Homo sapiens: one gene and its partner. The protein of the gene in region 1 purifies or fractionates together with the protein of each later gene. This does not show direct contact. Each region holds a gene or a part of one and is shown in the gene's direction. Other genes may lie near its edges.

Region 1 (4,210 bases):
TATCACCTGAAAAGCAAGACCTTCTCTGATTACGCTATGATACATATCTCCTTAACCCTCCAGCACCCTTATCCTTCTTGTCCTTTTCTCCATAATATTTATCTGATATATTTTATAATCACTTATTATTTTTTGTCACTTGCCTCCCTCAACAAAAAGGCAATGGAAGCTCCATGAAGACAGAGATTGTTATTTTTATTTACTGATCTGTCTTAAGAGATAAATACAGTTCTTGTCATGACTTGGGAAGGGTTTGAGATTTTATCCTACTTGGAAGCTAAGAAGTTAGCCTGCCACATTATAATGGTTTCTGGCAGAAGGCACAGACTCCTGGCTCAGAGAAAAGGGACTTAATTATTCCATAGCAACAGCCAGAGTATTGGAATTTGTTCTGGTTTCCCAAGCCCCAATTTCCACAGGCCAATTTAAGGGGCATCAAGTGATAGTTGCAGGGAAAGTACAGTGTGTTAAAGGAAAGAAAGGCCAAGCTTTTAAAAACCCGAAATCTTTTGTAAAGGGCAATTAACATGGTCTTTGCCCTAGAAGGAGATATTAACTTTATTACACTAAACAGTAAACAAACCTGCCTTTTGGTGCAGAGGGAGACATTACGTATTTTCTAAGGTCGTTTGTTATATAAACACCCTTAAAAAGATAGTCTGAAACAAAGGTTATCAGTACCTCTACTCATAAGACACACCAAAACATGAGAGAGGATGGAGAATTCTCTTCTAATAACACATGGTAGATATCCAGCACATATTCTCTTTTACCCAGCACATATTCTCAGATGAAAGAGTAACCCTTTGAATTAGGTGTTATTATTATTTTAATTTCCAGATGAATACACAGAAGCACAGCAAAAGTGGCTCCAACAAGCACCCTCTAGCTCCAGAATACACGCTTTAGGGAACTGAGTCCTCTCTCTCTCTTGCTTTCTCTTTCCCTCTCATCTGCCACTCCATCAGCTACTTTAGGTTTTGTGAATGAGTGAGGGAAAAATAGAGAAAAGAGAAAGAAGAATAAGAAAGGAAGAGTGGAGGAAAGGAAAAAAGAATGGAGAGGTTTTACCCTACTTGGAATAAAATTCTTTCTAGTAGCTATCCATACCTGCTCATCTATCCAGAACTACAGAGTAGAAGGGATCTTTGAGTTCATCTTACAGGTGAGAAAACAGGCTTGAGAAGGGAATGACTTTCCCACAACCACAGAGGGAGTTAGGGATCAAACTAACCACTAGAACTATTTTCCTGACAGAATCTTTGCCTTGCATGTTTCAGGCCCACCTGGCTCCTTTCACCTTTCTTACACAGGTGACATTCCCAGAACCTGGAGGCCAGGCTATGACACAGAGTCAATCAATAACCAGGGAGATCTGTGATATAGCCCAGTAGGTGGGGCCTTGCTGCCATCTGCCATATGACCCTTCCAGTCCCAGGCTTCTGAAGAGACGTGGTAAGTGCGGTGCAGTTTTCAACTGACCTCTGGACGCAGAACTTCAGCCATGAAGGTAACAGGCATCTTTCTTCTCAGTGCCTTGGCCCTGTTGAGTCTATCTGGTAAGTGTTGCATATTTTTCAAATTTAAATAAAACTGTTTTGACCTGTTGCTTTGTGAAGCACATTATCTTCTAGACTTTTGATGTAGTCTAGTCTTCGAGAGATGTTTTGGACCTAATGAGATGAAATAAAATCAACAGGTAAGAATTATTTTTTAAGAGGAATTTTTAACCTACTATAAGGAAAACAATTCTACTAGTAAGAAATTCCCAGAAATAAAATGGTTTTCCTCTATTGATGTGGCTGACCCTTTGTTGGGATATGGTAGAGAAAAAAGGGTAAAAATATTTTAACTTTAAGTATACTTCTCATTCTGTAAATGTGTAAGGCCAAATTACAAATTTTAAATTCTCATGGGATTGCATAAAATAGATAAATGGCTTCCAGTTATTCAGTATAAAAGGCATAATTTGACTGATTAAAAATTTATTTTTTTATTGTATAGGTTTCAGTGTACTTGAATCATGTATAGTTTGTCAGATTTATCCCTGAATAGCTAATATATGTGATATAAAGGGAATTTTTTATTTTCAATTCCTGGTATTTCTTATTAGTATCTGGAAATACAAAAATTGCATTTTGTGTATTTACATTACACATTTTGAATGTTTTGAAAGAAAATATTCTGCTTGAATAGATGGTGCACATATACCTCCAACTGCATCTTGACAATGTTGACAGACAACTCTGAACCCGCAGAGCCAAGATCAGTTTCCTTTTTATCACTGGAAATGGTTAACATTTTCAACTTCACCTCTCATGTAGTGAAGGATCCTGTGGAGAGCCAAATCAGCACTTTGCTAAGAAGAGGAAGAATATTGTTTGTTTTATTTGCTGAATATTTATGGCAACAGTCAGTGTTCCCTTTCCCCCTCCTCATGCATGTTAATTAATACAAATAGATGCCTGTGATGAGCACCTGCTCTTCAGTTTTTAGACTCAACTAGATTCTAAAAGCCAGTGGGCCCCCAACAACATCAAGTTCTGACTATCCCGGGGGAAATTCTCCAAGCTCATAGATGCCTCACTAATTTTCATTACATTTAGATACAAAGAACTACCTCTTTGCTCAGATCACCTCAAAGATTGATGATATTAAAATTAATTTTCAGGAATGTTTCCTTATTTGATTGCTATCATATTAGTTCCCTTTCCCTTCCATGAACTTATCCACAGTTATCATTTCCTATATGTTGTCAGCAAAACCTCTGCTATTTTCTGGGGGAATAGAGATTAGCTATTTTGACTACCTGTAAATTCAACAAATGTGAGTTAGACCCATAGTCCATATGATGCAATTGTTGGAAATAGCTCTTTGGGAACTGATAGTGAGTTGGCAAAAGAACTCTATTTTTTCAACAATACTTACAAAAGGGAATTTAAATGTAATTGAAAAAGCTAACTTTGCATCAGAAGACCTGGTTACTGCTTATGATAACTGTTTCACAGCTAGTTATAAAAACTCTCCATACTTTCATCTGTAAACTGAGATAAAAATTATACTTCACTAATTGTGAGATTAAAGATCTAGTAACTGGTTTTGAGAATGTTTGTGAGTATTCAAAAGATAATTTGCTCAGTGCCTGATTCATTTCCAGCAGTAAGTGCATAATTTCTGTTTTCAAGGAAATAGATCAACTTCCTAAAACATCAAATCGAGATACTTTGGTCATAATCAAAGTTTTACTCAAACTTTTTAAGGTTTTGCCAAGGAAGGGGTACAGGAAAATCAGTCAGATACTTTTGGAAGATTAGAGAAATCAGAAAGGGTGGGGAATGAAAGAGCCTAGTAAAGAAGTCACAGTCTGCAATGAAAGCAGAGAATTCTGATGAAGAATAGATCTGACTTCTTTCATTTAGGACCCAACTTACCATATCTGATTTATTTCTAGGTAACACTGGAGCTGACTCCCTGGGAAGAGAGGTAAAGAGATATTTGTAATTTCTTATTTCTCAGACTGGAACAGTTTGATCCAACAAAAATGCAGCCTTGCTGTCACCTTTCAGTTTAGCCTGAAGTTAAGAGGAGTATGAATGCTAGGGAGGGTTAACGTGAGAAATGCAAATGGTAGTAGTAGTTCCAACCCACAGGCGTATATTGAAGGACAATTTCACTGATGTATAAGCAAGTTCCATATAGTCCTACAGTGCTTGCTGTGAAGGGGTTTTTATATAGACTAGTGATAGCTGTAGACAAGTATTTGGGGTGGAAGCCTTCTCAACTTCACTCCAAGTAGCCCTTCCTCCTTACAGCCAGTTTGACCATGTTGGCATGCAGCTCTCCCAATCACCAAGGTGTGGCTCTAATTTATAATGAATGACAGAAAATAATAAACTAGGTTCTCCTTCTAGAAAAATATTCTAACTCTAACCTTTTCATATTTTTTTGTTTAAGAGGTAATTTCAGTAAATTTGGAGACCAGAGGAAGAAGTGTCCCTGTTCTCAGTACATTTATATCTAGTCAGAGACAGCTGATAGACCAAAAGTTCATGAATGAATGCAATATTACATTTGTGATAAGTGTTATGAAAAAGTTCTGCTGCCGTTAGGAACTTAGCCTAGTTAGAAAAATCAGGGAGGGTGCTCCGAAGTAACTGAGGGGTTATTTTGAGCCAAAAAAAAAAAATGAGTGTTAGTAAAACAAAACTGG
Region 2 (3,500 bases), on another chromosome or scaffold:
AGGATCACTTGAGGCCAGGAGCTAGATACCAGCCTGGGCAACATAGTGAAACCCCATGTCTACAAAAAATTTTAAAAATTAGCTGGGTGCAATGGCATACACCTGTAGTCAATGCTAGCTACTTGGGAGGCTGAGGTGGGAGGATCACTTGAGCCCAGGAGTTTAAGGCTGCAGGGAGCTATGATTGCACCATGCTCTGCACAACAGAGTGAGATCCTGTCTCTAAAAAAAAGAAAAAATGAATTCCAGCTTCTTCTGCCTGGGCCCAGGTCTAGAAATATAAAAGTTACCCATTCCAGTTCCCTCAACATTACAGAAAAGTCAGGGGCGTTGTCTGCAAAGCTGGGCAAGTCAAGCTGTGACCAGGTGTTGGCTGCCTTGGCCTAAGACATCTGGGTTGTGTAAACTCATTTCTTTGTTTGTATATTTTCTTGCTTGGGGTTTGTTTTGTTCTATTTTCCCTTTCATTTCCTAGAAAAGCATCTTCTGGAAAGTTCTAGCCCTTTCCCAGCTACATAAAGAGGGAAGGGCCCTGGCCGCTGCACGCATCACCCACGCAGGAGGCCCCTAGAGGCTAGGGCTTACTCTGCAGGGGCAGCTCCCCAGAAACTGGGGACCTGGCTGGAGGGGTTGAGTGACCACAGGTGTCAATTGCTTTTTGTCTTCACACACAGAAAAGAGGTGGGACTAATAAATGGGCTGCTATTCCCCAGAAATCAAAGTTCACCCCCTCCTCGCTGCTGAAACACAGCTGGATTAGGGCCTTCTGTCACTTCTTCATCTCTGTCATCTTTGAGCCTTTTTGGCTGGGTCTGTCTCTGGCAAGGGTCAAAAATCTTCCTCCTCTACAGATTTTTTGGGAGGTGTTCAACCTGATTGACATCATTAGGAAGGAAGGCATGCCAGGTCAGGGATGCACAGCCTTTGCCATTTCCAAACTTACAGCTGCCTCTTTTGTGCTGTCATTGACGTCTGGTGACTCATCGCGTCTGTCCCATCTACTCCTGCTAATTGACATCCTCATTAGCAGCCACGCTGCCCCCATCTCAGAGCAGCCATCAGAATGAGCCCTGTCTCCATCTGCCTCTTCCCAGCCTTGCCAGTTATTGACATCTGCACTGAGCCTTTGAGCTTTGCCTAGTCTTTGGTGGACCTCGGCCATGATGGGCCAGTCTGGGTATAAACACCATGAAATAGAACCATCATGACGACAGATTTGTACAGACCAGGCTCTAGTGCTGGCTCTTGCTAACCAGCTGGGAGATCTTGGTCCAAGCTCCTTAGCCTTGGAGCCTCCATTTCTCCATCTGTAAAATGGAGATGATAATGCCAACCCTGCCCACACTGGGTTGTGGTGAGGAACAAATGGGCTGTGTGGAAGAAGCCCTGTACCCCACAGAGCACTCATAGACACAGATGACTGATCCCCTCTCTTCCCTACAGCTGCCCTGCACCACATTCCTTCCACCGGCTAGATGGGGGTGCTCCCAAGGTTCCGCTTTCCTGTTAACACATTGGAGCAAGGTTTTGTCTTATTACAGTCTACCTTCCAGTGACCACATCTCTGTCCATAGCTTCAACAAAACGTAGCTCCATGGAGCCCAAGTCCTTCCCCTAAGTGCCAGTGCCACGTGTCAGATGGCTTGCTTCACAGCTCCATCTGGATTTTTTCCCTTGTGTCTCAAATGCATGTCTGAAAATTCAGTATCTTTCCATCTGGCAGACTGTGAACTTTGCATTAAGTCCTTTCCCCAGGGGCCAGGCTCTTTCCCCACCCCCCACCTCCACCTCTCTTTACTGAGGCATCATCAGGCATCTTCCTCATGCACCCTTCATCCTCTCCCTGCCCACCAGCCCTGTCCAGTGGGCTATGCTAGCTGGTGGCCAAAGGCTGCTGACTTGTCTCCTGACCACAGCATTCCCTCATAGCTCGTCCTTTCTGCTTCGAGAGATACAACTGGTTTGAGGGTTGCTTTCTTACTTAGAAACCCTCGGGAGCTCTCCGTCACTTCCTGAATACAGTCCCGATTTCTTAGGTATTTCAAGCCTTTCCCAAAGTGATCCTGGCCAACTCACTCAGCCTTTTCTTTCATGTCTTCTCCTTTCTGTGTATCCTGCCTTCCAGTTAGATGGAAATGTGCTCCATTTCTTGGGCCACATCTTTCTTTGCCTTGCCTCCAGTTCCCCATCCCGGGACGTCTGTTGAAATCTTACTCTCCTCTGAGTGCAAGCTCACATGCAGCCCACGCTAAGAAGCTGCCGTGATGGTTCCTGGCAGCAGGGCTGAACACACAGAAGAGCATGTCACGCCAGCTGAGTGGCCCCAAGCATGCAGATGGCAGTGGGGAGCAGGGAGGCTGTGTTCTTATCTTCTCCACAGGCCGAGACCAGGTGTGTCACCTCATTTGACTTCACAAATTCTAACTCCAGAAAGTGTTTGTATGTAGTTTTTCAAAAATTTTTGCCTCATTAACTAATAGATGCCCCCAAAATGGCACAAAAGTGCTACAGAAACTTGGAGAATTAAGAGCTCACCCCAAGCGAAGGTGGTTTGCAAAGGCTGCCCAGAGACGTGAGGTTTGATTTGCCTTAAGGGATGGGTGAGTCTGGAGGGTCGCCAGGAGGCGGGGGATGGGCAGCCTCAGTAAGGGGACTGGAAGGCACCAAGTGGGGGCCAGGAGAGAACAGCGAGTGTTCCAGAAGTGTGGGCAGAAATAGAGCACCTCCTAGTCCTAGTAACAAAAATAGCTAATACATTTTGTGTTATTGATTATCTTGTATTATTTCATTGAATCTTCTCAACAACCACATGAGGTGGCTGCAGATGAGGAAAGTGAGACGCAGAGACAACTGTGACTCATTCAAGGAAATGCGCGACCCCATGGGGAGTTGGGACTCAAACCCAGGCATCCTGAGTCCATGCTTCCAGCCACTGCATGTTGCTGCTGCACTCAGCAAGATGTCTGAGAAGGCAGACAGTCCAACTTCCTTCCTGTGCAGAAATCTCAGACTGTCTTATTCCTGGGAGAATAAAAAATCTAGACCCTAACAGGTGTACAATGAAGAGTTTTGTAAGAAAGAAAGATTCAAAAATGAAATAGGTAACATATGGGCATTGAATGTGGAGCTGGATTTTAGCCTATATTCAATGGAATTGGAAGGTTTTGTGCAGGGAAGTGATGTAATGAGCGAGGAGGACGTGTAAGATTAATCTGTGGTGAATGTGCACTGACACTGGGGAGATCAATTAGGCAGAAAAAAAAAGGACTTTTAAAGAAGACAAATATTACTGGAACAGGCCGCTGGAGCAGTCTGGGAAATGAGCAGAATGACTTTTATAGAGCGTTCCAGGGCTTCAAGTAAATTCGAATTCAAATTTATTCTTCCTGTATTATTTGCTGCATCCTAAAATGGGCTAGGAAAAAAAAAACAGTGAATTTAGTGAGCATTTATTGTGTCCTTGCTGTATGTGAGGCCTTGTGCTAGGGACTTAAAACAAT

The links.
Region 2: the proteins of SPINK1 (region 1) and PDIA5 purify together in Homo sapiens (affinity purification with mass spectrometry; one large-scale study listed by BioGRID and IntAct). This does not show direct contact.

Annotation. Positions count from the first base shown.
Region 1 is NC_000005.10:147,828,872-147,833,081, reverse strand, and holds the start of SPINK1 (serine protease inhibitor Kazal-type 1 precursor), read left to right. Parts: upstream 1-1,410; 5' UTR 1,411-1,504; coding exon 1,505-1,559; exon of another isoform or gene 1,560-1,673; intron 1,674-2,211; exon of another isoform or gene 2,212-2,577; intron 2,578-3,451; coding exon 3,452-3,483; intron 3,484-4,210. UniProt on the Homo sapiens protein: Serine protease inhibitor which exhibits anti-trypsin activity. In the pancreas, protects against trypsin-catalyzed premature activation of zymogens.
Region 2 is NC_000003.12:123,119,025-123,122,524, forward strand, and holds part of PDIA5 (protein disulfide-isomerase A5 precursor), read left to right. Parts: intron 1-3,500.